Regions from separate parts of the Homo sapiens genome. Here region 2 is linked to region 1. A link means that fine-mapping ties the variant in region 1 to the expression of a gene that starts in the linked region. Tissue or cell type: whole blood. Region 1 holds a variant in brackets; the other region holds the start of a gene. All regions are shown on one strand. Distances are between the middles of the regions.

Region 1 (2,751 bases):
GTAGACGCCGCTGGGAGCGAAATCGGTCGTGACGTACGAGGTCCAGCATTAAAGGGGGCGGGCCGAGAGGGGCGTGCTTCGGTAGTGCAGAACTCTCGCTGCTACTAGGGGAGTCCACGCCTCCACCTTTTCCCCGCCTCCTGTAACTCATTGGAAGAGCTGTGCGCCAATTACTTTGCCGTTACCCAATGGCTACTCAACTGTCTCTTTGGTTCCGCCCAGTCGTCTACCCTGGGTTGGCAACGCCTGGGTCTACGCATGCGCCCAAACGCTTTTACGCTCGAACTTGCTTTAGTCCTGGAGTCTGCGCACGCCCAAAGGGCACCCCTCGCGTCCTACCGCGCCATCACCTTTCTGCGCTTGCGCATTCATGCCGTCAAGTTTTCCTTTTCCGGGTCCCAATTGGAATCGTTGGGCGCATGCGCCACTGCAGGCTGGCGGTTCGCGGCTCCTTCTTCCGGCCTCCTCCTTAGGCCGGCACCAGCAGAAGCCGGGCGAGCGCGGAGCCCCAAGCAAGTGACCTGCGACCCCGAAAGTGGACCCCAGATCCTGGGGTTCTCCCTGGTCCGGAGACTAGGGAGCTGTCGCCTGCACCCCGGGAGCACCCACCCCACGACCACCTCTGGATGCCGCCGACGGGTACCCGGCCCGTGCCCCGCGCCTGCCTGCCGGCTCGGCCCCTCGGAGCAATTCTGGGCCAGGAGTGGGGACCCGGACCCCGCCCCTGATGCAGCCCCACCCCCGCGTCCGGGCCTTGCACCACTGACTGTCCCGGCCGGCCCCGCCCCCTGCTCGCACCCTCGCGCGGCCGAGCCCCCCTCCCCCGCTGGGGGAGGCCATGGCGTGAGCGTGAGGCCGGGCCCCGGGGCCCTCAGGCGCCAGACGGGGCATGGGCCGGGGGCCGCCCCCATGAGGGTCCCGGGAGGGGGGGCGCGGGCAGCAGCGGCGGGGCCATGGGGTCGCAGGTGTTGCAGATCCTGCGCCAGGGGGTGTGGGCCTCGCTCACCGGCGGTTGGTTCTTCGACCCGCACCAGAGCACCTTCTCCAACTGCTTCCACCTCTATGTCTGGATCTTCCTGCTCATCTTTCCCTTCTTACTGTACATGGTGAGACGCCACGGCCACCTGTAACTCCAGCCGGGAGAGGGAGGGCAGCCTGGCAGGGATTCAGGGCAGTGCCCTGGGCTCTGGGACGTGGAGAGAGAGGAATCACTGCAGAGTTTGGGTCTGTGTGGAAGAGGGGCCAAAGTCTTCCTTTCTTGGATCGAGTGACCTTGAACCCTACACTTAATCTCATCCAGCTAAGCAGAATACAGAGCCCTTTGTCGAGGTCTGTGTACTGGTTGTGTGGAGAGGTGATGAAATTTTCTTGTGAGTCTGTGAATCCCAGCTATGA[T/C]GTTGATGGCAGGTACATCCTGTGGGGGCGAGGCTTTGTGAAAAGGGACCTGGCTTACTTTCATCTTCAGGTCCTGCCTCCCAGCTTGATGGTGGCCGGCGTGTACTGCCTCGTGGTGGCTGTCATCTTTGCTACTATCAAGACTGTCAATTATCGGCTTCATGCCATGTTTGACCAGGGCGAGATCGTGGAGAAGCGCAGCTCTACCATGGGGGAGCTGGAGGAAGAGCCTGCCCAGGGGGACAGCAATCCACCCAGGTGGGTGGGGTAGGGGCTGTGCTGGGGATTGAGGGTTTTTGGTGCCTGGGCCGGAACCTTGCAGGGTGGAGTAGGGGCTTAGGGAACATTGGCTCTCTGAGTGATTGTGAACACTTGTCCTGTGTTAGCCCTGGAATTGTAAAGTGACTTCTGAAAAAGAAGCAGTGACAAAGATGGGAGGAAGTAGCATACACAGAGGAGAGGTTAGCTCAAAGCTGCTGCTCTTTTTCACCGCCAGGGACCCCGGAGTGGAGATGACAGTGTTCCGGAAAGTCAGTTCCACACCCCCGGTGCGCTGCAGCTCCCAGCACTCTGTGTTTGGCTTCAACCAGGTCTCGGTGAGTGGGCCTGGACCTCAGCTTGTCCTCCTGTCCCTCTGCGAGCCAGTCCCTACTGTGGGTGCATCCTGAGCCTACTTCTTGCCTTGTTTGTTCCTTCATGGCTCTCTGTCTACTCAGGAGCTGCTGCCCCGAATGGAGGACTCTGGGCCCCTTAGAGGTAGGTGGCTGCTCTTCAGGGTTGGAGCATAGTGCTGTGGAACAGGGGCTGGCGTGCTGTGCCAGGGGGTCCTGCTGACACCTCTGGGGCCATGGTTGCAGACATCAAGGAGCTGGTGCGGGAGCAGGGCAGCAACAATGTGATCGTGACTTCTGCCGACCGAGAGATGCTGAAGCTCAGCTCGCAGGAGAAACTGAGTGCGTGGGCCTTATGGGGCCGAGGCTTGTGGGCTAGACCAGCTGTTTCGTTGTTGAATCCCCTCAACTTTGGCTCCATCCTGGGTCTCCTCTGTATTCCTCTGTGGGACCTCCCCAGTGTGCTGCTGTGGCTGGGCTCTCAGGGAAAGTACAGGGCATAAGACCTCCCTTAACCACTAGTTTGTTTTGCAGAAAACCCTTTTTTCATTTTCTGTTTCCCTTTATTTTGGCAGTTGGAGACCTTCCCCAGACGCCTCCAGGGGCTGTCCCAGACCCCTCTCTTGCCAGTACAGACTCTTCAGAGCCTTCTCCCCTGGCTGGAGATGGAGCGCCCTGGAGTGGGAGCAGCATGGCTGACACTCCCATGAGCCCCCTGCTGAAGGGGAGCCTCAGCCAGGAGCTG
Region 2 (2,500 bases), 100 kb after region 1:
CAGTGAGAAGGGATCCGGATGGGGGAGCTCTGTACAGAGGGCTGGTGATTGTAAAAATTTCTTTTGTAAAGTAGAAGTTGGGGGTGGGGTGGGTGCTGGCTGCAAAAATTTCTGGCTTCTCTTACCCCTATTGCCCCCGGCAATAAATTGTTTCTATATGCCAGAGCCATGCAAAGTTCTTGGTGGGGAGGGGGAAAGGGCCCATGCTGGCTTAGGGGCTCTAAGGCGCCCAGACTCACAGGTGCTGTGAAGAGCTCCTTTATTGGGGTGATGGAATCGGTTCCAAAGAGCTGGTTTACTGCTGTGAAGGGATCGCAGCTTTGAATTTCAAGCTCTGGTTCTCAGTCCTCGGGCACCTGTGCGTGAATCTGCAACAGGAGTCGCCTCTACTGTTGGACTTGTAAGACAGGGCGGCAAGCTGGCCCCCATACCCGAGGAAGGACCCAGCTGTTCAGAATAACCGCTTCTAGACATGCTAGGAAGAGTGGTCAGGGAGCTACGCTTCCCACACACTACCCAGTAGAATCCTCCAGGCTCCGTCTGCGCAATTGTGCTCCCCAGCCCATCCACCCGGGGGCAAGACGGAACTCCTCGTCTACTCACCGCTGCCGCAAGGCTGGGCCAAGTTAAGGCCCCACGCACTTTGGCATCCGGGCCAGGGATGGTCTCCAGACCCCACAGGGTGAAGCGGCTGAAGTTGGCAGTGGCTCCAATGAAGCGGTCCTGGGGAAGGGGCCTGGCTCAGCATCGGGACTACAGCTCCCGCCCGCACCCCCTTTCAACCCTATCCCTTTGCTCACGAAGTCCCGCTCCAGCGGCTCCTCCTCTTGGTCGTCAGTCCCGGAATCCCGCAAGGGGTCTGGCTTCCCCATCGACACCTTCTTCTCTTCTGTCACCATCACGTATCCCACGAGGCCAGGCGGCACCGCCACCTCCTCTCCCCGTAGACAGCGGCCCCGAAACGACACTTCGAGTCCTGGAGCGGGAGGCGCAAAGGGCCTCAGGCAGGACCCACGCTGGGTCGAGCCCGGAGCTGCCCTCCCGCCACCTCCGGACGGACCACGATCCCCAGGAGCCCAGGCGATGAGAAGCGCGCAGGCCGGCGCGGGGGCTGCCGGGAGCCGTAGTCCGGCCGCAGGGCTCACCCTCGGGGCCCTGGCGGATGGCGGGCGTGAAGAAGCGCCCCACCGGGGCGGGCCCGTCCACCGCAACCTCGCAGGGCAGCAGATGCAGTGTGGCGGGTACGGCGTCGCGCAATGTGGCGGAGCGCAAGTGGACGCGGTGCCTCTCGATGGCCGCTTCGTCGCCGCTCTCCATCCTCCCTCCTACGCGACGCCAGGGCTCGCGAGCTGACACTGAAGCTGGCGCGGAAAGCGCGCAGGACCTCTCAGGAAGCCTCCGCGGGGCCTCACGGGAAGCCGCCGCGGAGCTTCACGGGAAGTGTAGTCCCCTTACCCCCTAACGCTTTCCCTGGGTTCAAGTCCTAGGGTTTTCCAGTTGTGTTTTGTTTTTTTCCTTCCTTCCTTCCCCCCTCCCCTCTTTCCTCCCTCCCCTCTCCCCCTCTCCTTCCCCCTCCCCCCTCCTTCCCCCTCCCCCCTCCCCCTCCTCCCTGCCTCCCTTCCTTCCCCCCTTCCCTTCCCTTCCTTCCCGTCCTTCCCTCTTTCTTTCTTTTTCTTATTTATTATTATTTTTTTTTGACAGAGTCTCGTTTTGTCGCCCAGGCTGGAGTGCCAGGCACGGTCTCAGCTCACTGCAACCTCCGCCTCCCGGGTTCAAGCGATTCTCCTGCCTCAGCCTCCGGAGTAGCTGGGATTACAGGCGCACACCACCATGCCCACCTAATTTTTGTATTTTTAGTAGAGACTGGGTTTCGCCATGTTGGCCAGGCTGGTCTCGAACTCCTGACCTCAGGCGATCCTCCAGCCTCGGCCTTCTGAAGTACTTGGATTACAGGCGTGAGACACCGCCCCCAGCCGGGTTTTTTTCTTTTATTGTTTTTAATGGCACATGTCGTTGTAAAAATCTAAAACGATTCTGAAAAGTACTCTTTTTATATTGATTAGTAGGTAGGTTATTCATTTTTAGTTTATTAGGGACATCAACCCTTTTCTTAAATGCATTGAAAATGTTTTATCTGTGGTCTGTCTTGCAAACCTGTGTAAAGGTGATTTTTGCTGGACAAGGACTTATTTTTGTGGTTGTTTGGTCTTTTAGACAAGGTCTCACTCGCCTAGGCTGGAGTGCAGTGGTTTGATTGGCTCACTGCAGCCTCGACCTCCCAGGCTTAATCCATCCCCCATCCTCAGCTTCCTGTGTAGCTGGAACCACAGGCCTGCGCCACCACGCAGCTAATTTTTGTATTTTTGGTAGAGGTGGAGTTTTGCCATGTTGCCCAGGCTGGTCTTGAACTCCTGGACTCAAGTGATCTGCCCACCTTGGCCTCCCAAATCACGCTGGAATTACAGGCGTGAGCCACTGCACCCAGGACAAAGACTAATTT

What was found. PIP is the estimated chance that this variant, and not a neighbour inherited with it, causes the effect.
Region 2: RNASEH2C starts here. The variant in region 1 is fine-mapped to the expression of RNASEH2C in whole blood (INTERVAL, PIP above 0.99).

The regions. Positions count from the first base shown.
Region 1 is chr11:65,615,359-65,618,109 of GRCh38, forward strand. PCNX3 (pecanex 3) reads left to right here and starts at 418. Exons shown (of 35, transcript NM_032223.4): 1 at 418-1,106; 2 at 1,466-1,653; 3 at 1,892-1,991; 4 at 2,112-2,151; 5 at 2,253-2,348; 6 at 2,582-2,751. The coding sequence starts at 954. RefSeq lists enhancers at 1-42, 323-472, 483-532 and a silencer at 663-912. The variant T/C (reference allele first, on the strand shown) is at 1,396.
Region 2 is chr11:65,719,442-65,721,941 of GRCh38, forward strand. RNASEH2C (ribonuclease H2 subunit C) reads right to left here and starts at 1,357. Exons shown (of 4, transcript NM_032193.4): 1 at 1,146-1,357; 2 at 801-976; 3 at 604-723; 4 at 1-368. The coding sequence starts at 1,317. The coding sequence ends at 342. KAT5 (lysine acetyltransferase 5) reads left to right here. Exons shown (of 13, transcript NM_182710.3): 13 at 1-163. RefSeq lists a silencer at 1,043-1,282 and an enhancer at 1,433-1,502.